Linked DNA regions of Homo sapiens: regions 1 and 2 are each linked to region 3. The links come from fine-mapping of genetic effects on gene expression. A gene starts in region 3. Each other region holds a variant in brackets. All regions are shown on one strand. Distances are between the middles of the regions.

The links.
Region 1: its variant is fine-mapped to the expression of MIATNB in whole blood (TOPMed, PIP above 0.99).
Region 2: its variant is fine-mapped to the expression of MIATNB in whole blood (INTERVAL, PIP 0.97).

What each region holds. Positions count from the first base shown.
Region 1 is chr22:26,691,229-26,699,405 of GRCh38, reverse strand. All of the region lies in intron 1 of MIATNB (MIAT neighbor), which reads right to left. Among named protein-coding and RNA genes, the nearest start is that of MIATNB, 22 kb to the right of the region's middle. The variant A/G (reference allele first, on the strand shown) is at 4,121.
Region 2 is chr22:26,746,483-26,754,659 of GRCh38, reverse strand. The region is part of intron 2 of MIATNB (MIAT neighbor); the gene reads right to left. Among named protein-coding and RNA genes, the nearest start is that of MIATNB, 78 kb to the right of the region's middle. RefSeq lists enhancers at 652-1,649, 1,650-2,648, 2,649-3,646. The variant G/C (reference allele first, on the strand shown) is at 4,513.
Region 3 is chr22:26,668,263-26,676,439 of GRCh38, reverse strand. MIATNB (MIAT neighbor) reads right to left here and starts at 3,597. Exons shown (of 6, transcript NR_110543.1): 1 at 3,453-3,597. It overlaps MIAT (myocardial infarction associated transcript), which reads right to left. Exons shown (of 5, transcript NR_033320.3): 5 at 1-8,177. RefSeq lists enhancers at 7,281-7,863, 7,864-8,177.

The DNA.
Region 1 (8,177 bases), 23 kb before region 3:
GGCTGCATGTAGTATGACCATGCCTCACCTTTTGCACCCATAAAGCAGGGAGACAGGACCCAAGCAGCGCACTGTGCATCCTGCAGCTAAATCTGTCCACCTTCCTCCCTTCTGCAAGACACAGGTGCCCAGAGTCAGAAATTACATCTGGGCTGTTCAGATTTGTGGCCACTCTCCCCAGTCATTCAGAGCATGGGGAAATTCAGCCTCATGCCACCATTTTTCAAGCACCACTGGTAGAGGAGGAGACATCAGCTCTGCACCCACCTTGGTCTGAGCACCAATCTCCGTGGAAGATGTTGGGAGAAACAGCATTTCTTCAAGGGCATTTGCAAAGGGCTTCAGTTAACAGAGGGCCTACAAAACCATTAGCCGTGAAATCCCTTCAGCACCTCCTAATGAAGATCCCCTGTGAACAGACCAAGAAAAGGGCTCCAAGAAGGAAAAGATGCACCCAAGGTAACAGCTGGAAGATAAAGGAGCCCGCATTCCAACACAGATCTGTCTGTCCCAGTGCACATGCAGTTGAGGCCACACAGAAGCAGAGGTTGGATCCACCACATTTCAGAGAAACCATTCATGTATTCAACAAAAATGGAACCAGGTGTTTTGTGCCTGCTACATGCCAGGCCCTGACCTAGACTCCGATAGCACAGAGATTTGTTTGCCATTCAACACAGGTTTATTTAACACCTACTCTCCTCCAGGAACTGGGCGAGGCACTGGGGCTACAATGGAGGACAAACAGGCATGATCCCTGCTCTCAGAGTCCCTGCTTTCAGAGTCCCTGCTCTCAGATTCTTTTGTAAATAAGGTGAAACAATTATTTATCCTAAAATGAAGGTAACATAGTATCTTCTGAGGGGAGGTCCACAGAGCTGATAACGTGAATTTGAATTAATCTGGGGAATCCAGGAAGGCTTCCCTAAAGAAGTGAAGCTTGCACTAAAATCTAAAGAAGAAGTAAAGAAGATGAGGAGGGAAAGAAAAGGCATCCAAGTAATGAGAACAGCATGTGCAAAGGCCCTGTGGTAGGACGCACCAAGGACCCAAAGGCAACCCTTTTGGCTGGACTAGAGAGATCAACGGGTAGTGCCATGCAAAGTGACAGTGAAAAAGGAGACAATTGCCAGGTGCGGTGGCTCATGCCTGTAATCCCAGCACTTTGGGAGGTCGAGGCGGGTGGATCAACTGAGGTCAGGAATTCGAGACCAGCCTGGCCAACATGGTGAAACCCCAACTCTACTAAAAATACAAAAAAATTAGTCGGGCATGGTGGGCGGCTGTAATCCTAGCTACTCAGGAGGCCAAGGCAGGAGAACTGTTTGAACCCAGAAGATAGCGGTTGCAGTGAGCTGAGTTCATGCCATTGCACTCCAGCCTGGGCAACAAGAACAAAACTCCATCTAAGAAAAAAGAAAAAGGAGAGAGACAATGAAAACCCATCCAGGTAAGGATCTGGTCTTCACCCTAAGGCAATGGGAAATCCTCAAAGAATTCTAAGAAAAACTGAAATGATCAGCTTCACCCTCTGGCAATCAAATAAGAGTAAGAGATGTATAAAGAAGTAATCACAACCAAAAAGATACACCTGAGACAGAATAAGTTCAGGTAGCTGCGCAGTCACCTAATGCAATTAGAGGGATATGAGCTTCTTAGAGGAGGAGATATTCTAAATAAAATATTTTTTAAGCCCATCACAAAATCCTGAATCTGAAAGGTTCAAACGGGCTCCTTCCAACACAGGTGCAAGCCCATTTCAGAGATGAGGTCCAGGGACCCCAGTCTCATGGTGGCGGACCACAGACCAGAAGCCACAGGGCTCTCTCTGACTCCTTGCACAGTGCTTACAAGTTTTCCTGGCTGGATTAAGTTCCTAATTTGTCCCTAAGCCTCAGCAACAAGCCAGAGGCTAAACAGGCCTGATGCAGGCAGAACCCTGGGCTCATCCTAGAGTCCCCAGAGTCTCTAACCCACCAGGGGTGGAAGGTGAGACAGGTCTAGGGAGCTGGAAGCCTGTGCTCTTCCCCAGAGAATCTCCTTCTCCCAGCTGGAGAGCCCCCCACAAAGCCATCTAAGCAGCCCCGGGGGAGGCATTTAGGTAAGAGGACTCCAGGGAGCCTTCAGAGTAATTTTCAAGGAGGGCTGAGGCCAGTGAGAAAGGGGATTATTAGCTCTGCTCTCTGGAGGGAAGTTGATGCAGACAAGTCGGTGAGTGGGTTACTCAAGAGAAGGGGCATTTATAGTCCCTTTCCTTCTAAGCAGAGGACATTCATGATGCCTGGGGATTCAGACAGAGCCCTACTGAGGAAACAACCACAGCGGTGATAATAGCTCAATAAAAATAAATCGATATGAAGAACTCTTACAACTCAACAACTAAAAGACAAACAACCCCATTTTTTTAATGGGCGGAGGACCCGAAGAGACATTTCTCCAAAGAAGATATGCAAACGGCCAACAAGCGCATGAAAAGATGCTCAATGTCATTCATCAGAAAAATGCAAATCAAAACCACAGTAAAATCTCACTTTGCACCCTTATGAATAGCTATAATTAAAAAAAAAACGATAATAGCAAGTATTGGCAAGGATGTGGAAAAACTGGAACTTTTATACACTGCTGGTAGAAATATAAAATGGTGCAGCCACTTTAAAAGATGGTTGACAGTTTCTCAATGACTTAAACCTACCAGCAATTCAACACATGTGTGTGTAGGTATATACCCAAAAGAACTAAAAACAAGTGTTCAAACAGATACTAGTATACCAATGTTCGTGGCAGCATTATTCACAGTGGCCAAAAGTTGGAAACTCCAATATCCATCAACAGATGAGTGGATAAGTAAAATGTGATATATACATTCAATGAAATATTATTTAGCCATAAAAATGAATGAAATAGGCCGGGCGCGGTGGCTCACGCCTGTAATCCCAGCGCTTTGGGAGGCTGAGGCAGGCGGATCACGAGCTCAGGAGATCGAGACCATCCTGGCTAACACGGTGAAACCCCAACTCTACTAAAAATATAAAAAATTAGCCGGGCGTGGTGGCAGGCGCCTGTAGTCCCAGTTACACAGGAGGCTGAGGCAGGAGAATGGCGTGAATCCAGGAGGCGGAGGTTGCAGTGAGCCGAGATCGCACCACTGCACTCCAGCCTGGGCGACAGAGCGAGACTCTGTCTCAAAAAAAAAAAAGAATGAAATACTGATACATGCGACAACATGGATGAACCTTGAAAACATGCTAAGTGAAAGAAGCCAAGCATGTATTGTACAATTCCATTTATATGAAATACCCAGAATAGTCAAACTGATAGAGACAGAAAGCTGATTAGTGGTTGCCTAGGTTTTGCGGGAAGGAGGCAAGGGGGAGTGACTGCTAATAGTTGTGGGATTTCCTTTCAGGGTAATGAAAATGTTCTGGAACCAGATAGTGATGATGCTTATACAACCTTGTGAATGGACTAAAGGCCACTGAATTGTCCACTTTAGAAAGGTTAAAATGGCAAATTTTAGGTTATGTGTCTTTCACCACAACTCTTAAAATCTAGGAACATAAATAAATAGATGGACTGGGAAACCACCCAGTAGCTCCTCAGCACGCCCAAGAATAAAATCCAAAAGACAAGCTCTTACCTACAAGGCCCTACATGAGTTATCCTCCCCTCTCTCATTCAGCTCCTTGCTGATCTTTGAACACATCAAGCAGGATCCCACCTCAGGGCCTTTGCTCCTGCTGTCTCCCTCTACCTGGCAGGTCAGGTCTCCACTCTGCTCACTCCATCTACCTCACATAGGCCATGGCAGATAGACTCAAAGGGGCTCCCAATGCCCCCCACCTCTCAGTATTTACCCATTTGTATAACCTCCACCCTTACATATGGGCAGGACCAAGAGCTTGCTTCTAATCAATAGAATACAATAAAGAGGACCCAGCATGGTGACTCATGCCTGTAATCCCAGCACTTTGGGAGGCTGAGGCAGGCAGATCACTTGAGGTCAGCAGTTGGAGACCAGCCTAGCCAGCATGGTGAAACCCTGTGTCTACTAAAAATACAAAAAAATTAGCCCAGTGTGGTCGTGCATGCCTGCAATCCCAGTTACTCAGGAGGCTGAGGC[A/G]GGAGAATCACTTGAACCCGGGAGGTGGAGGTTGCAGTGAGCCGTGATTGCACCACTGCAGTCCAGCCTGAGTGGCACAGCAAGATTATTCCATCTCAAAAAAAAAAAAAAAAACCCACAGAGGAAAGAATACAATAAAGGGGACAGGAGGCTGCTCTCATGACTACATCATATAAGACTGTAATTAATGCCCATCTTGCTAGGAGACTCTCCTTGCTGGCTTTGATGAAGCAAGCAGCCACACTGGGGTGGGCCATGTGCAGTAGCCTCTGGCCAACAAACAGCCAGGCAGTGAGGGCTGCTTCCATCTTATAGCCAGCAAGAAACTGAGGCCCTCAGTCTTACAGCCCACAAGGAACTGAATTCTGCCAACAACCCCATGAGTTTGGAAGTGGATCCTTCCCCGGTTGAGTTTCAAGTGAGGCTACAGCCCCAACCAATACTTTGACTATAGGTTTTAGAGGAGATTCTGAAGCAGAGGACACAGCCTAGGTTCTTGGCCCTCAGACACAGTAAGATAATAAATATATGCTGCTTTCAGTTTGTGGCCATTTGTTATGTAGCGTTGGTGCATGGGTCCCTGTTCAAATGTCACCTCCTTAGAGAAGTCTTTTCTGAATTCGCTTTCTAAAACAGAATTTGTCTGACACAGAAAGATAAATACTGTATGACCTCACCTATATTTGGAATCTAAAAGAGTCAAAGCATAGAGACATAGACTAAAATACTGGTTGCCAGAGGTTGGAGGGACAGGGAAATGAGATGTTGGTCAAAGGGTACAAAGTTTCAATTAAGCAAGATGGATGAGTTCTGGAGATCTAATGTATGGCATAATGATTACAGTTAATAATATATATTTGAAATTTGCTAAGAGGGTAGGTTTCACCACAAAAAAAGACAATTATGTGAGGCGATGAACGTGTCAAATAGCTTGACTATAAGGATCATTTCACAACATATATGTATATTACAGCATCAAGTTGTACCCCTTAAACATTACCCAATTATATTTGGGTATTGGTCAATCTATTTGTCAATTATGTCCAAATAAAATAAAATCTGATCCACCGTTACTTTCCACAGTTACCCTGACTTTTTTCTCCATATCCCTTGCTGCAATCTGACTCATTATATGTTTATTTACAAATACATAATCTTGAGAGCAAGGATCTAGTCTGTCCTGGTCATCTCTGCATCTCCAGTGCCTCTCATGGAACTTGGCACATAGCAGACATTCAATAAATAAGGAATGACCGAACAATCAGCCATCTTTATATAGGCTTCACTATGGGCACTCGCCTTAGTTGTCCTCACCATGACCCAGCAAGCTGGTATAATTATTCCCATTTTATGAATGTAAAAAGTGAGGCTCAGTGGTAAAGAATGACACACCCAAGCTCATATAGCTGGTAAATGGCAGAACCAACAATTAAATCCAGGTAGCCTCACCCAAAGGTCCATGTTCTTCACTGCCATGCAGGCAACCTCAGATGATCAGCAGCACCTTTGTTCCCATTTTCTTCCTTCTATGAAAGGGGTACTTTTATCCATCCTGGGTCAGTGGCAGGAGGGACTCTCCCCATCCCTTTCTCCCAGCCCTGCTATCTGTGGACAGGAACAGGTAAAGATCTTCAGAAGCCTTAAGCTTAGAAAAGATGAGGGAGCCCCCTCTGCAATCTCCTATGTAAACTGAAATTAAAACAATGCAAAACCATAAAACCCAAAATATGTGTGCATGTTGATGTTAAAGGAACTGTTTTCTAGATTTCCTGATTCTGGTTGTTGAAGTGCAACCTTTTTCATCCCTTTCATGACCTGACTTTCCTGAGCTCCAAGCCCATCCTTAGCTGACCTCCTGGAGGAGCTAGGTCTGCATATGGGATTTTGAGTAAAGAAGGGAACGAGGGAAAGACAGAATACCCCCGGCAAAGAGAACAGCATGGATGTGCACAGGCCCTGGGGTAGAAGTAAGTACAGCAGAGACAAGGAACTGGAAGAAGAGTCTTAGACATTTGCGAAGTGTAGACACACTATAGGCTAGAAACTGCACTTTTACTTAGGAATTCCACCTAATCTTCACCAGACCTCCATAAGGTAACTACAACTATCAATGCACTTCTACAGTTGAGCAAACTAACACACAGAAAGGCAACACACCTTGCTGTTTTGGTCATCTTAGGCTACACTATGTGATGCTAACAGGTGCCTTCAAAGGTCTCGGTGGCTTAGATAGCAATCATTCATTCCTCTGCAATCTGACAAACCCTTGTAGCTCTGTTTTTGCTCTGCCCCTCCTCACTTCATTCCAGGATGAAGGCAAAGGGAGCAACTCCCTTATGGAAACCTGATGGTCTCAAGGCCAAGGTAAAAAGGGAAGGTGAAGCACAACACTTAGGAAATAGTAAAAATTACCATAGTGTCACAAAGAGGGAAGGGAAAAGGTGACCACACAAGGGTTCTTACAGTGTCTGCCAAAAAGTGGCACATACCACCTCCACTCACTTTCATCCCATTGGCTGAAAGTCACCTGGCCAACCTGACACCAGTTGGGTAGGGATATGAAATCTCCTGTAGAGATGACCACATAGGGAAGGGTCCCCATAAGGTCATGTATTTCAGAAATGGCCAGACAAGAATTCAAACCAAGGTGGATTTTTTCCACACATACATACATCCCCTGCTCCATTCCATCCCCTGGGCTATGCACTTTAGAGAACTCTGTGTCCTCAATAACAGTAAAACTCTGTCCTTCCAAATCATGCCCTGGAAGGAGGAAGCTCCAGCAAAGGAGAGGCAGCTGGGTTAAAAAGATATGAGCATACCTTCCCAAGATGCACCATCCCCTTGGGATCTTATGCATCCTTCAAAACCCAGCTTAAAAGGATGCTGCCTTTCCAGGCTCCCCCAGTTGAGCAGACCTCTCCCTCCCACATGCCCACCGATGAGCACTATACTTTCCTCTCTTAAAGCTCCTGTTCCCCTCCACTGCACGATAATCTGTATACAGGTCCGTTTCTTTCATCAGACTGTAAATAACATGAGGACATAAGAATGGCATCTTGGCCAGGCATAGTGGCTCACACCTATAATCTCAGCACTTTGGGAGGCCGAGGCGAGCAAACTACCTGAGGTCAGGAGTTCAAGACCAGCCTGGCCAACAGGATGAAACCCCGTCTCTATTAAAAATATAAAAATTAGCCAGGTATGGTGGTGGACACCTGTAATCCCAGCTACTCGGGAGGCTGAGGCAGGAGAATTGCTTGAACTTGGGAGGCAGAGATTGCAGTGAGCCAAGATCATGCCACTCCACTCCAGCCAGCCTGGGCAACAGAGGGAGAATCTGGAATCTGTCAACAAAAAAAAAAGATGGAAAGATGAAAGAAAGAAAGAAAGAAAGAAAAAGAAAGAAAGAAAGAAAGAAAGAAAGAAAGAAAGAAAGAAAGAAAGAAAGAAAGAAAAGAAAAGAAAAGAAAAGAAAAGAAAAGAAAAGAAAAGAAAAGAAAAGAATGGAATCTCATTCCGCTCTGAACACAGTGCATAGCTTAAGACATGCAGTAAAAGTCTGATGAATGAATAGATTGGTCAGTGGATATATATGGGTCGATGGAGGTGGAGAGGTTGGAAGTCAAGTTTTGGAATTGAATTAGAATCCCAGCTTTGCCACTTGCTAGCTGTGTGACTCTGGTTTATTTACTTAACCTCTCTGGACCTTTACGAAGTAGAAATATAAGTGTGTCTCTCACTGGATTGTTAGATTGTCAGGAAACGGAAGGGTGCACGGTATGATCTGACTTTAAAGAGATTTGAATTTGAATCTGAACTCTAACACTAGAAGGTGTGTGACTCTAAGAAGTTGCTTGTGCGGCGTATCATCTATTTACCCCTCTTGATCCACTGTCCATCCTCCTCCAACCTACCCAGTCCCTAAGAAGTTGGTCTCTACTGGCTGCATAAATAGGCTGTGCCCCTTCCTCCAGCCTCTTGTTAAGATCAGCCAACGGAGAGCAACAACAGAAGATGAAAGAGAGGAAGGAAACTGAGGTCAACCTATTTATTC
Region 2 (8,177 bases), 78 kb before region 3:
GAACCACAGCAGCTGGATCCGGTGCCCACCCTGAAGTTACTCAAGGACTTCAGAGACAGACCTTGACATGAACACGGTTTCCAACCTTCTCCAGTGAATGACCTCAGCAAATCTCTTCTCTCTGAGTTCCAATTCCCTCCATTCCTAAAGTGGAGAGAATGAAATTTCCAACCACACAAGATGGTGGTAAAGAACAGAAACTGTTCATGGAAAATGCACACAGCAGGTGCTCAATAACTGATGGTCTTCCTGGAAAATGCACACAGCAGGTGCTCAATAACTGATGGTCTTCCTGGTGATCACCGAAGCCCTGAGAAAGCAGCTTCTTAGGGCCACCATTTGCAAAACAGCACTTTGTGGTTGCTAATTCCTCATAGAGAGAAAAATAGCTGGAGAGATTTCCATTAAGATTTTCTCCAGAAATCAGTGCCCCTGGCAAGCTGCAGGGCTGAGGAGTGCCTCTAAGGTACCTGGAGTTCCAGTCCACAGGTGGAGGCTGGGGGAAAGGGAGGGAGGAGTAAGGCAGGGATGTCTTCAGGGCCCCGGCTGAGTCCCCTCCCCACCTCCACGCAAAGGACAGAGGAAGTGGGATGAAATCGGGGGCACTTTGGGGGCTTGAGGCACAGTGGGGTGACATTCTGTCTGAATCAGTATTCCTTTTGCCCTGATCCTGCACCACGACCAGCCAATTTCTGTCAATTTACTCTTCCTACCTAAAATTTCACTGGTTTCTTACCTCATTCATTCTTTATTCATGCATTTATTCAATAAATTTCAGTTGGGTATCTGCTATGTGCCGGCACCATTCATTCTTGGCACTAAGGATCCAGTGATAAACAGACTTGGTTTTTGCCCTTCATGGGGCTCACAGACTAAGGTGGGGGCAGGCAGGGGGTATGGAACAGACACTAAAGATATAATAATTAGATCGGAGTGACAGGAAAGCCGAGGGGGCTGCGAGCACTCAGGAGATCAAGGAAGTCTTCCTGGAGGAGGTGACATTTAGGTGGAGATGAGGAGAATGAGTGGGGGGTGAGTCATCCAGGGGAGTGGGGCAGAACACTCCAGAGAGAAGGGGTTGGTAGGCAAAGGTCCCAGAGTGAGACTGAGGACCTGCAGGGGATGAAGTGAGCATGTGCCAGCACAGGGAGAGATGAGGCTGCTGAGGGAAGCAGGGCCAAGGTGGATCTTGAAGCCCTAGTGAGGATTTATGGCTTTTGCAAGGGTATTGGGGAGCCACCGAGGGTTTTATGCAAGTGGAGTGGCATCATCAGATTTCCAGCAGCATTAAATACAAACTCTTCTCCCATCTGCCCCCTCCTGGCTAGTATCGCTCCTCTCATGCCCTCTACTCCCCTTAACCAGGCTCCTCCTGAATCCCCAATGTTACGCTAACCTGGCTACATCTTCCGCCTGGACATGCGCATCTTGGGCTGCACCAGGGCACAACGAAACAAGCCCCAGGTTTGGATCAAACAGACCCAGCTTCAAACCTGGCCTCTTTGGCCTCTGGACCACCTGGATCAGGTCCCTAATGTCTCTGAGCCCCAGTTTGCTCATCTGTAAAATGGAGATCATCACTGTCCACCACTAACAGTGTCCTGAAAGGACCTGGCTCTGACACTTACTGTTTTCTTTCATCTGTTCCAGAAGCATGCCACCTCCTCCAGGCAGCCCCCCACCCTTCACTCCTCCAGCCCTCTGAACACCAGAAGCACTTCCTGTTTGCCCCTGCCCCCGGGTAACATGCATAGAACATAGCTGTTAAGAGGTGCATCCCTCCAGCAATCAGAAACCATTTGGGGTCAGAGCCCAACGGGTCTTTCCCAGCAGATCCTGGGAGTCTGTCTGCCCAGGGACAGGACAACTCCTTAAAGCAGGAGAGAGATGGACAGACAGACAGAAGGGCTCTGGGGAGCTAAGTGAGGTCCCAGGGAGTGTCGAGACTCCATGTGCTCATTTTCTGGGGTGGATCAGGATCTGGGAAATCACTCGGAAAGCTGCACCTCTTAGGCCAGACTGATAAACAGGCTGCCAACTTACAGTGGGGAGCACGATCTCCCGCTGTGACTGCATCCCCCAGATGGTGGCTGAAGGGCTCAGGCCTCAGCAAGTGATGGAATGGGGTGCCTCAGGCAGGAGAGGAACTGCACCCGGCCCCACCCCAGCAGAAGGGTCCCACATGTCCACCATTCCTGCTCTCAGGAAGCCAGGGTTCCCACCCCTACCCCCAACAGTCTCCCACTGACACCTCAGATGCCCACCTTCCTGCATCTCAGCAGTCCTGGGCAGCCAGGAAGAGACGCTGGCTTTTGGGCTTGCATGACACAGGGTTGGGGGGGTGGGTCAGGATAAGTCCTGGGGCTCTGGGGGGCCCTCGGACACAGAATGCAGAGGGCTGGGCAACATAGTGTCCCCCACACTGGTCACCTCTCCCAGGTCTCTTCCTCAAGCACACCTCAGACTCCCCACCCCTCTCTGAGCATCGGTCTCCTCTGCACAATGATGACCCATAATATTCTGAATTAATAATTCCAGTAATGTTGACACCCCCACCCCCACCACCAATGTCAAGAGTCTGGCAGGAACATCAGTAACCATAGCTACCAGCAGCACCCACTTAGCTTCTGGCAAGTTCCATAGAAATTCTACAATCTTTTTGGGTAAAGAGACTGACCAAGGTGAGGGAGTCACTTGACTAAGCCCAGGTTACCACTAAGAAAATACCAAATGAATAATGGCCCCCAGGGAGTTAACACTCACTAGGGGCCCACTACTATTCATTTACCTGAAATGCTCAGCTAATGCTCACAGTCACCTTGTGGATTATTATCCCTATTTTATACAAGAGGAAATTCAGATTCAGGGAGGGAAAGTAACTTGCACAAAGTCACATAGAAAGTTAGAAGAAGGGCTGGGACTCAGACCTAGTTCTCTGGATGTTAAGACTGCTGGCAGAATTTCTAGATGGGGTGAGAAGGAGAGGCAGGATGTCCCACCCAGACCAGCCTCCATCCTGCACCATAAAGACACTTCCTTCCCTCTGCCCAGAAGTGGAGTCATTTCTCTCTTCCCTTTTAAAGGTGGATTTCTCCTCCAGCTCCTCCCTGCTCCTTCCCCCTCCCCCAGCAGCCACCCCGCTTCCCTGAGCTGCCTTCCTCCCCCTCTCTCTCTCACTCTCCAACACAAAGAGTTGTCAAGGTAACCGCATTGCCAAGGACTCTCTCTTTGTCTGGGGCCCTGGGAGGAAATGCATAAGCCAAGTCGCTGCTCACTGACCCCAGATGACCCCCACAGGGAAGGACAGCCCTGGACCATCTTTTCAAGGACTGCTTGCCTCACCCCACCTATTTCAGCCGACTGCACCCTGATAGCAGCTCCAGGTGGCACATTCCAAGTCCCAACGTGCAAGAGGCTGAGGACCTGGAGGAAGTGTCTTGGGGCATAACTTCCTGGAGACACACTGCTAGAAACACTCAGGGAAAGGAAACAGCAAAGAAAGAGCACACTATGTGCTTGGTACTGGGATGGGCATTGCCGATGGTACAGAGAATAACATCCACTATTGTGCCTGACACTGCAAAGCACCTTGGGTGACACTGAGCATAGCACCTACTGAGTGCTTAGGCCTTTGCTAGACACTGACAGGGCACTGAGCACAGCCCCTACTTTGTGCTTCCCTCTGTGCTAAGATGACGGAGAGGTGCTGGCCATGAGATGAGTTTGAGAAGGAATCTCTGAATGGCAGGTGTTTGAGTCAAGCCTTGAAAATCCTGGTTGAATACACAATGAATAGGGTTGAAGACATTGGACAGGGGGAAAATCAATACTCTCGGAGCTAAGCAGTAACTATGGACCCAGCAGGTCAGGCATGTCCCTTGCTTTAAACAGCAAAGTCAGGATTTGACATCAGACTCATCTGATTCCACGTTCCCTTCCCCCCTGTGGTGGTAACTGATGATGTTCCAGGTGATAGAGTCTCCATCAGCCTGAGTCTGTGGATGAGAAGGATGTGGAGCAGAGCCTCCACCAGCTTGGTTGGTGAAGACTTGGTTTTTGCCCTTTGGTTTTTCCCGGAGGCGTACACCGTGCACACAGAGCACAAGCAGCAAATCAATCTTGGCTGCTCTGTGCCATTAAAACCTGAGCCAGGCTGGGCACGGTGGCTCATGCCTATAATCCCAGCACTTTGGGAGGCCAAGGTAGGTGGATCACCTGAGGTCAGGAGTTTGAGACCAACCTGGCCAACATGGTGAAACCCCATCTTTACTAGAATTAAAAAAAAAAAAAATTAGCCAGGCGTGGTGGTGCACACCTGTAGTCCCAGCTACTCGGTAGGCTGAGGCAGGAGAATTGCTTGAACCCGGAAGGTGGAGGTTGCAGTGAGCTGAGATTGTGCCACTGCACTCCAGCCTGGGCGGCAGAGCAAGACTCCATCTAAAAATAAAAAATAAGAAAATAAAAAATAAAAAATAAACCTGAGCCACTAGATTCCTTAAAGAACTAAAAGTA[G/C]AGCTACTATTTGATCCAGCAATCCTACTACTGGGTATCTAGCCAGAGGAAAAGAAAGTCATCATACAAAAAAGATATTTGCCCACACATGTTTATAGCAGCACAATTCGCAATTGCAAAAATATGGAACTAGCCCAAATGACCATCAATCAACGAGCGGATAAAGAAAAGGTGATATATAGATATATATACACCATGGAATACTACTCGGCCATAAACAGGAATAAAATCGAAGCATTCACAGCAACCTGGATGGCATTTGAGACCATTATTCTAAGTGAAGTAACTCAGGAATGGGAAACCAAACATTCCACACTTACAAGTGATAGGTTAGCTTTGAGGACACAAAGGGATAAAAATGACAGAATGAATTTTGCGGACTCACGGGAAAGGGTGGGAGGGGGTGAGGGATAAAAGACTACACATTGGGTATAATGTAGACTGCTGGGGTGAGGGGTGCACCAAAATCTCAGAAATCACCATTAAAAACTTATTCATGTAACCAAACACCATCTGCTCCCCAAAAACCAATTGAAATAAAAAATAAAATTAATAAATTAATAAAAAAAATTTTTAAAAACCTGAGTCACTGTAACTGAGAATTTAGGAGGTATTAGTTATATTGCAGCATATCACAGTCCACTCTGACTGTTACATCATCAGACTGAACCAAAATCCTGCGGCTGGCCCTCCTTGAGTCTCATCTCTGAATCAATCACTGTAGGCTGAGGGCAGCAGTACTCGATTGGCTCAGACCTGGTTCACTGGCCATGCCTACCTCCAGTGAGGGAGGAGAAGGAGTCACCTCTACCCATGTTGTTGGGCTTGGCATGGCCAAGGGTGGCTTTTCAAGGAAGATGGCATGCTGTTACCAGAAAGCGGGGCAGTTGCTGAAAAGGAGATACGAACACGTGTCCACTTTGAGGGCCTCATAGCCAAATGCTGTGCAAGAGGTTCCTACGCTGAATGGGAGACAAGTTCCCAGGCTGCTGCTGCTTCTCACAAGTCTCTGAAATTTGCCTGGAAAAAGATTCTATTGATTTTTTCTGGGTAACGTGGCTTCTTCCCTCAAAGAAGTCCTTTGGTTGCCGGGAGGCCTGCCAGGCAAGGGGTTGGCTTTCCCCAGGAAGGGTGGAGAAGACTAGGCTGGGGTAGGGAAATCAAGGGGAGAAGGAATGGCCAGCTGCCCCTAGCTGCCCAGGGAGAGGGAGGAGGCCAAGCTTGCTCAGAGCAGTAGTTGGAGACTAGCACGGACACCCCTGTGATCCTTTTTTCTAAAACCCAGATCTTTTGCCTTCACTTCTCTCCTTAAAAACCTTACATGGCTCCTTGCAAACTAAAATCAGCGTTGATTTCTATGCCAGGCACTGAACAACGTATTCCATTTACATTGTTATCCCCCCTAAAACTTCATAAGCAGCTATTAGAGTTTAGAGTTTTAACTCGTGAAAAATATGAGCAAATGAATGCTCAGAATCACAAGTGGCAGAACCAAGGTCACAGAACTCAAAACAGAGCTCCTAGTCTTCACCCACCCATTCAACTTGCCTTAAAAAAAAAAAAAGCTATAGGCCAGGCACAATGGCTCATGCCTGTAATCCCAGCACTTTGGGAGGCCGAGGTGGACAGATCACGAGGTCAGGAGTTCGAGACCAGACTGTCCTATATGGTGAAACCCCGTCTCTACCAAAAAATACAAAAATTAGGTGGGCGTGGTGGTGCTCCCCTATAGTCCCGGCTACTTGGGAGGCTGAGGCAGGAGAATCACTTGAACCTGAGAGGCAGAGGTTGCAGTGAGCCGAGATTGCGCCACTGCACTCCAGTCTGGCCAACAGAGTGAGATTCCATCTCAAAAAACAAAAAAGCTATAAAAATTGAAAAAACAATCTGATGAATACAAAGAGAAATAAAAGAGATAATTAACCTTTACTTGCCACACTCATTCCAGCTACTCTCCCAAGGAAGCACCATTAACTCTTTGTTGAACATCCATCCTGACCTCTCTCTATGGTCAAATAATATGTTTGAGCATTTATTGAGAGCCAAGAATGTGCCAGGGCATCGGAGGTTATTTTCACAGAGAGTGCTTCTCAGGGATGTACAAATTCCCATGCAATTCCATCTATTTTTTTAATGACCTTAACTAGTCAGAGCACATGGCTGAAGAAACTGACAAGTAAACATTTATTGCTAAAACCCAATAGATTAGGTCCCTTTGCAGCTCCAAATTTCCCAACAATCCACACTTCACCTAGAGGAAAGCCAAAGTCCCTGCATCCACCCAGAGGCCCTACAGAATCTGGTCCCTTGGTCACCTCTCCAACTTGGACCTCACCATCTGCCACCCTCTCCCTTCACTTCCTCCAGTAATATCTCACTTTTTTTCAAAAGGCCCCCAGCACGTCCTGCCTCAGAGCCTTTGCACCTGCTGATCCCTGTCCCTGAAACACCCTTCTCCCAGATACCCCCACGGCTCACATCCTCGCCTCCTTTGAAGTCTTTGCTCAAATGTCTCTTTTCCTTAACTAAACTGGACTCTCCCCATCCCCAACAAACACACGAAACCCATTTTACCTTCTTTGTTTCCTCATAGCATCTATTACTGTCCAACATAGTATACAAACCTTGTTTTATCATCTTCCACCACTCACTAGGATGTAGCTTCAGTGAAGTGAGGAATGTGTGTCTATTTTGTTCCCAGCTAAATCCCCAAGGCCTTAGAACAATGCCTGGCATACAGTGGGTGCTTCATAAATGTTTGTTGAATGACTCCATTAATTTAAAGAAGCCATAGTTCAGGCAGCAACATGGCTCAGACAAGATTGAATACTTTTTAGAGCATGTGAACCTCTTTCTTTTTGGAGCCGGCATCCAGCACTGTGAAACTTGAAAAGATCAGCATGCCAGAAGGAATGCAGGGGTTAGGGGAGCAGTCAAAGGGGACTTTCTCCCAAAGTCATTTTCTGCAGATCCCCTTTCCCAGTTCAGCCCAGGGTTGAGGAGTGACATCCCAAATCAGAGGGACCGCAAATCAGATATCCTCAACCCGTCCCTGAGCGATCTCCTTTCCCCTGGATCTACCAGAAACAGGGGTCCTAGAAAGTTGAAAGTCAAAAGCAGGGGTCTTTGGGACCCAGCTTTCGGGGGCAGCTCAGGCTCATCCTGAGGCTGGTGCTGTGGGCTCAGTTCTCCAGGTATGATTTATGCCTATGGCCGAACTTTATTTTCTACTTTTTTGGATTCTGCTCTGAATTTTTTTCTTCTTGGCCTTTTCCTGGGTCAATGCAGTCTTGTTATTTGATTTACTGTTAACAGTATTGACTGCATAGGATTGAGCCAAGAAATGGAAGAAATTGCTTTTTCTCTCTTTCTATCTCCTGTTTGACAACTCAGTCTTAGCACTGGATTTAGCCAAGCTCTGTGAGAGCCAAGGGAGGCAAAGGAAGTGGGAGTGTTGTGGCTTTGCGGCTGGAAGGTGACCCTGGGAGGAAAATGGCAAGGAATTGTCATTGAAAAGGTCCTGTGGCTGTTTTACCTTCTAAATAAGATAAAGATACAGAGAGGGTGTGTTTGAAGTATGGGCTTCAAAGTCAACTAGCCTTGGGTTTAAGCTGTGTGGCTTTGGGCAAGTCACTTAACCTCTCTGAGCCTCAGTTTCCCCATTC
Region 3 (8,177 bases):
TTACACAGAAGCAGCTACATTCATGGATGAAAACAAAAATCCAAGTGACGCTCCTTTGTTGAATCCATGTAAAAATCTGATTTTTAATCTACAGAGAAATTTCTACCCACACATTCGGTATCCCCTGGGGGTAATGACATGGAAAACAAACATCTTTTCTGGTCTGTTAAAGTAAAACAATGGGTCCCTGGATAGACTCTCAAGAGGGCCTTTGATGGAATGGAACCAGTCCCCCCACCCCGAAAGCATCCCCCCAGCTCAACATGTCACCATTTACACCAGCACAGCCCTCACATTGGGTCCACAGCACAACCTATTAAGAAAGGATTATAACACCTGTTCGGATTGGGAGGCCAATTCCTCAGCTCTAAGATCCTGCTCATAGCAAGCTTGATGTTCAGTAGACTCCAAAGCAGACTGAATGAGGGAGGGGTCGAAGAGAATGTGCCTGCTTGGGCTCAGCCTCCTCTAATATTGTCAAGATGCACACACACTCTTAGAATCTCACAACCATCGCCAATCTCTATGTTGGCCTAGTCCCAATCCTTCTGCCTCTGGGAACAAAAGGTTCATTACCCACCAAGGCATATTTTTCCCTCTCTGGGACCAGGATCAGCTCTTGCAAGCTTACTCCACACTTGTATCTGCCCCTTGCAGCCATGCATGACAAATGGGCTCCCTCCCCAATGGAATTATCTTATAGACTTGCAGCCTATGACTGTGTTTCCCCTGATCTTCTCCAGGGACTTCCCACCACCATGGGATGACATGTTTTCAAGATTGCTCCCCTTCCGAGCCTTTATTTTCACCTTGGTCCTCTTTACTTTCCAGTCATTGCAGAGATACTTCCAACTGGGGTAGACATGTATGGATTCTGTTTATCAAAAGATGGACCAAAGGGTCTTCCTAGTTTCAAAAAGTTCTGCTCAGTTGTCTAAAATGTGGCCAGAGGCCATTGCAAACTCCTCTGAGTTCCACCTGGGCTGGAAAAGCCAAATGGCCAGCCTAAAACTCAAATCCACTAACTCCCTTTCTCAGATCATATCCGTCGCTCCCCAAGGCCTAAGGATAAAATCTAAACTTCTTGGCAACCAGACCCGGCACCATGTCCATGTCTCCTATCTCTTGCTACATTCCACATGAACCTTCCAGAACCTCTTTGGATCCTCTCTGATCCCCAGAAACTGGTGTCCACCACTCTCGCTGCCCGGAACTCATCCCCACCCACACTCCACCCAGCCACAGCTCAGCTTAGATGCCTCCCTCTCCAGAAAGCCACCACAGGGTGGATTAGGTGTCTCTCTGTCCCCATTCCACCCCCCTGCACCCAACACACTAGAATTAAAGCTCCTGAAGACCAAATGGTGTTTAACTACCACTACATCCCCAATGCCTGGCACACGCCTGGCACAGAGTAGGTGCACATCAATCTTGTCTGTCTCCTTGGTGCTCCCACAGACCCCTGACCAATCATAACACCCATCTCACTGAATCACTATCTACTTCACCAACTCTCCCACTAGGCTATAAAAGCACCATGACGAAAAAGCCCAGGTGCAGGTCCCAGCGCCCAGAGCAGTGCCTGGCACATAGTAGATCCTTAGCAGCATCAAGTCTTTGCAGTTAAACAAAGAGGAGTTTCAGGAATAGGAGGTGTGAGCTTCCTGCTTTGAGTGAAATGGAGCAAGGCAGCCACTAGAGGATGGCAGGCAGGCACTTCCGGGTGTAGACTACCCCATCCAAGGTCCCTGCCAGCAGCCAAGGCATGTTCTCAAAGCTCTTTCTAAGACATCTTTTCTCTCTTGTGCCCTCTGCAGCTCAGGCCTCTGGATCACCCTTCACCCCCACTGCCAACTACAATTGGTTAGCTCTGAGTCCACAGTTGCCAGAGAAAAGGGCTCTCAGCACCAGACTAGCATTCAACGACCCAAGCAACCTGCCTCTAAGGTCTGTAAGCCAGCCTTTGACCTGTCCCTAAACTGATCCAATCCTCCAGGCCCTGCCTTGAACTGTCTTCTCCTGCAGACTCTGACTACCAGACTGAGTCAGCAAAACCTTGAACTAGTGCCACCTTTTACCTGCACCTGGAATCCCTTGCGTATGCTCCCTGCCCCTCTACTCCCAAAGGACGTTCCCTCAGTCTAAAGAGATCAAAAGTCCCTTCCAGAAAAACTCCCGTTTCCTCGGTGCAGCTAAATTGCACAGAAGAGTTTATGCTAGAAGAGCTAAAAGTTAGAACAGGAAGCTCAGATAATTTATACTACTAACATGTAAATGACTGACGGAGTTATAACCCTTCTGAATACTCTGATCTAAAGCTTTATGTCCTAGAACTTCCAAAACACAAAGTCCCCAAAATGAAGACTCTAGGCCCTGGCCTGGGGAAGGGTGACTCTATACAAAATGGCATATGCTCTGTAGACACCAGACAGGTATTTTAAGGTTTATAAGAGCTGCATCTACTTGTGCAAACTACTGTAGCTATAAGGCTATATTTTTTTAAGAACTGAAACCAAATGCAGACTATGAGGAGTGAAGATATGCCCAATGGCCAAAACCTTGCAAGACTGGCTATACTTCTGACCCCACCTTGGTGGGTACCACTGCTCCATCAGGCCTGGTCCACACCAGAGCCCTGGCACCTCCTTTAGAAAACTACCATCTTTACCGACTTCTGATTGTTCTGACTCAGAGCAGCCACCACGCCCAAAATTGTTAGCTATGCTTTTCCCTGTGTTAGTCAAGTTCAAACCTGTGTTAGCCAAGTTCAAACCTGTGTTAGCCAAGTTCAAAGCTGTGTTAGCCCCTTCCCAGCCATGCCGACATCCAAGCTGTTAACAGTAACGAGGAATGTTAGACCTGTTGTTAGTCAGAAAAAAATCCACAAACCATTAGTTTCTGCTGAAAGGAACAGACCAGGAAGGCAGGAGTTAGTCAAGGTGAAGGAAAGGTTAATTAAGAACCGGTCAGGGCCAGGCCAGGAGCCTGGAACCCCCAGACAGGGCCAGGTTGGTTGTTAGTGGTCAGCCCCTGGGGCAGTCAGGGTGAGGCAGGGATTAGCTGGGTGAGAGCAAGAGTTAGCGCAAGGGAGCCAGAGATTAGCCCAAAGAAACCAAGGTGCCTACTGGAGGTGAGGCATGAAATCACCCCCAGGTGTGGCCCCGGCTTAGCGGCTGGCGGGCTCTGGGGGAGGCTGGCTGAGGCAGTGACGTCCGTGGGAACAGAGAGCCAGAGATGCATTCCTGGCCGGCCTGAGCATCTGCGGGAACCCTGTGAGCCCCTGAGGTTCACTTCTTGCTCCCCACTTCTCTCTCCTGCAAACTCCGAGCCCGGGGTAAAGCTGCTTCCCCTCCCCACACCCCTTTTCAACCCGACAACTAACGCCCTCTAGCTTCCGGGAATGGGACGGATCTTTCCCAAGGACTTCCGGTCACGGCCCCACGTCTACTTACGGTGGGGGAAACCGGCCTCTCTCGGCTCCAGAGAGGGGAGACGGCTCTCTAGCTGACTTCCTGTGTGGGAAAGAGTCCTCTCACTGACTTCCGGTGTCAGAAATGTCCCTCTTTCCGGCCTTCAAATATGAGAAATGTTTCTCTGGCCGACTTCCTGTGTACTAAATACTCCACTCAGTGGTTTTTAGCGTAGGAAAGACCCGCTTCATTGACTTCCGGTGTAAGAAAGGCTCCGCTTTCTGACTTCCGGTGTGGGACACGCCCCTCTGCTAATTTCCGGTGAGGGGCACGCCCCCTCCTGCCTTCCTCGTGGGATACGCCCCCCTCGTGACTTCCTGTGCAGGACAGCTTCTATCCCCGTCACTTAACAATGGAGAGGATTCTTCCCCAGCTTCCTTCCAGAGGACACAAAAGCTCAGAGCTCCACAGTCTAGAGTCTAGACCAACAGGCCTCCACACTCACGTCCCAGAGATTTCCCTGGTCCCACCTACTCCCAGTGGCAACCAGACTTCTGCACATAGGAGAGATGTCATACTCAGAGTCCAGCCTCCCACATCCACAGGACCACCTCTTCCTCCTCTGAGTCTTGTTAATAGGGCCATCCCCTGCCTTAGACCTGGCCCAGTGGACTCTGATCTTACAGCCAATATGGGGCAGCAAAGTGGGACATCTGTCTACAGGGCCAGTAGCCCCAGGTCATCTGCTTGCCAAAAGGAGGGGGACCAGCCCCCGGGGGGAGCCCAGAGCTCGGCAGGGCTGGGGTTAGTAAGAAGAGAAAACAGGGTTAGTAGGGGCTGGGTTAGTAAGTCAGAGCACAGCACCAGCGGACAGGGCACCTCAGCAGACACACACAGGAGTCGCTAAGAGAAAAGGAAGAACGCACGCAGGTCCGTTAGTTTGTTAAGGGATGATCGGGGTGCAGTTGAGGCACCCCAGGGGTTAGACGGGTTAGTAATCGAACAAAAGAGCTGCCTACAGAAAAGAAAGCTGAGACGGAGGAAGAATGTGGGGAAGTGACATGGATTCAAAGCCAAGTGTCTTGCCCCAGGCAGAAGGATCTGTGTGCAGAACACCCAGAGAGGCCAGGGCCTAGGCAGCAGACGTGTTCAACCAGGTTTGAGGGGCCTTCCTCCATCCTCATACTTTTTTTTTTTTTAGGTGTCTGCCATGTGCTGAGACCCTTATATTGACGGGAATCCTCACTGCAACCTGTAAGGTATCAGAACTCGCATTCTACCACTGAGGAAACTGAGGTTGAGAGAAGTGAGGTGACTTACTCAAACTCACTCAACAGGAAGTGGCAGAGTTGGTGAGTCTTATTTGCATTCTCTGTCCTGGAACGTGGGTCTGCACAAAGATCCCAGCCCATAGGCAGAGCCTTCTGGAGCCTTGGCTGCCCCCATATCCCAGCCCCTTGAAAGGCCCATGAGCTGCACAGTTAGTAGGATCTGGCTGCGGGGGGGTGGTTAGTAGGGCATGCTCGGGCCTGGTTAGTGGGTTAGTTGGTTGGCAGAAGGCCAGGCACCTCGTCACACGCCACAGCGTCCCGGCTGAGCCCTGGGTTAGTAGGTTAATCACACCATGCAACACTGCCCCGGCCCCTCCAGCTGCAGCTTCAGAGGCCTCCCGCCCCCACCAGCCAGGGAGTGGGGCCTGACCAGGGCAGGGGGTCTAACTCTAAGCCCCCCAGCCCCATCAAAATCAACCCTAACCACATGGACCCTGCCCAAAAGCATGTTGCTTCCCTATTTATTGGCTGTGGGTCTCAGAGCACCCCCTGCAAATATTTCAGCTCCCCTGAAAATGGACCCTACTTGTCCTAGACAGAAACCCCCTGCCTGGTTCTGGTCAGCCCCTTCCCAGAGGGCTGGATCCTGTTACACTCTGACAGACACACGCACACCCGCATCTCTCCGCAAAAGATCTGACAACCGTGCTTAGTAGACATCTCTTCCATCACCGACTGTCAGGCCTCTAGTTTCTCCAACTATTGGCCTGCCCTCCCACCATTAGAAAAAAAAAAAACGCATCAAGCTGGCCTGGCTCCTGGAACCAAGTTGAGACTCCCCCACGCCCACCCGGTCTGCTTCCTTTTCAGCCAATGCTACAAAGCACCTAAGTGTACCCTAATTATGCCATCTTCTATCACTGCTGTACTTTTCCCATAGAAACCCCAGCCTAGCATCTCCCACAGTTCTAAACGATGTTCCATGAGAAAAAGATTCTACGGCCATAAAAGTCAAGGAACACTTCATCCTATGCCCTGTCCCTGAGTATTTGAAATTGCCATTAGCATTTTAAAGGTTCTGATAAGTCCTGCACTACTTCAGTAGTGCAGCGGAATTTGAATTAGAACCTGCTTTTTTTTTTTTTTTTTTTTTTTTAAGGAGCAATGACATTTCCTAGAAGTTACTTTAAGAATTTCCCTAGAGGGTCGGGTATCATCTCAGCCAGATCTTTCTCATCCTTCAAGGCCCTGTTTGGTACAGCTTGCTAGGAAGCTGTTCCAGACTGCAGCAGCCCTCTCTGGGGTCTCTCTACCACTTCCCAGGCACTCAGAACTTGTGCCTCAGTAGACTGTTTTGTGGCACTGTCCCATTCTCTGATTCTCCATGTGAGCTGGTTTTATCCCATCCAGCATGGCTGTGAAATCCTAAAGGTTCAAACCCCAGCCACTCTTCACCTATATTTCCCCCAAATGGCTAGCACGGGAAAGGGCCCAAAGTAGGTGCTCAGTGCTGATGAGAGAGTAGAATTTAAATACCCCAGGAAGCATTGTGAGTTACTACGGAGGCCATGAAATGCTGCCACCTCCCCAAGCTGATTAAAGAGTGATACTAGGAAAATAGGTAGGGAAGGGCTAATCAGAAATGCCTCTGGTTCAGAAGATGCTGAGTTTTAAAGTCCAGAGAGCCAAAAAAAAAAAAAAATAGATAAACCCTAAGTCTATACTCCCAGATGGATGGGAGCATTTGCTGAGCACCTACTGGGAGTCAGGCACTGTGCTAGGCACACAATCTCACTGAATTCTCCCTGCACCTGACAGGCAAGCACATTCCTTCCATTTCACAGAGCATCGGAGGCTCAGAGGTGAAGTAACTTGCCCAGGGTTGTAGCCCAGGCCCTTCTCAGGACACGGCTCTCCCAGGGCCTCCGCCTCCCTGCACTGAGCCCTGCCAGTTCCATATGTCCTCCGAAGCACTCCTGAGCCACCCCAGCATGGTACCTGCCACTCTCCGTGTCTGCTTCCCATACCTCTCTGCTCCTCCTCCCCATCCCTGGGTGGGGGCGGGAATTCTGAAGGGGAGAAGGCTCTGACTTTCCATGTTTGCGGTGACCACCCTGTTAAGAACTGAATGGTGTCCCCTCCCCCAAATGCATATGTTGAAGCAGTAGCCTGCTATGTGACTGTTTTTGGAGATGGGACCTTTAAGGGGTTAAGGTTAAATGAGGTCATAGGTTTAAGCCCTAATATGGTGATATTAGTGTCTTTATAAGAAGAGGAGGAGACACCAGAGCCTGCTCATGCTCTCTGTCCCTCTCCACAGAGAAAAGGCCATGTGAGGACATAGTGAGAAGGTGCCACCTGCAAGCCAAGGAGAGAGGCCTCACCAGAAACCAAGTCTTAACACCTTGATCTGGACTTTCCAGCCTCCAGAACTGGCAGAAAATAAATTCCTGATGTTTAAGCCATCCAGTCTGGCATGGTGCTGTGGCAGCCCAAGCTGATGAATAGTACACACCACTCCGCATTCTGGGAAAAAGGACATCTGGCTTTTAAACTTGCCTAAGGGAGGCCACAAGCTGCTCTCTTGCAAACGCTGGGACTGTCTCCTCTGGAGGGAGCTGGAATTGCAGATTGTGGGGCCTGTCCTGCCACCTTCTGTTCCCCAAGAACAGAATCCAGGAGCAGTGCAACTAGAAGCAGCGATCTGATTGGAGAAGAGTGTCCTGAGACTGGGCTAAGGTGACCCCTTAAGCCTTTGGGTAAGACTGGTTCCCTTTGGATGGCAGGAAAAAAAACCCAGGGCCACCTGTCTCTTTCTAGTGAATTTCCCTAGCCTAAATCTTATCTCTTAAAGACCCTCTCTTTTCAGGATGGTGCACTCTCAGCCCCTCTGGCTGCCCCTCCCAGAGTTCAACAGCACAGGGGGAAGGCTCCAGCTCCTCCCAGATCCTGACTGTCTCCTCTTTGTAACCATCAGGGAGAGGAAAAGCATGGAAAAGCCCCACCAAGGAAGTCCCCCACAAAATGACAATTACGCACTGAGCAAATGGAGACAAAGGACTCCAGCCAGCGGCACCCGAGGAGCTGCATCTGCCCTCTGCCTGACAGCCCCTCCCCGACTCCCATCCTTGTTCCTGTCCCCATCCTGTAGGGTCCTTTGAGACCCAGCCTTGGGGAAAGTGTGGTCAGTGGGGACTTGGCCCAGGCCAGGCTCTGTCTGGTCACCGGCAGAAACGCGAGGAGGAATCAAGTTCACATGGGGCAGGAAAGGGCCCCCAGACCCAGACAATAGGGCCCAGCAGGCAGGGCCCGAGCAGGTGAGGAGGGAGTAGTGGGCTGCCAGGCCTCCCTCATACCCCTGGAGCTGTCCTCCAGAGCCAGATCAGTCATCTGCTGAGCATCAACCAGGAAGAGTTCCTATCCATGGGAGGCTCCATCCCAACAGGTGTGAAGAGGATGAGATCTTCAGGGAGTCACCCAGCGGGCTAGAAAACCA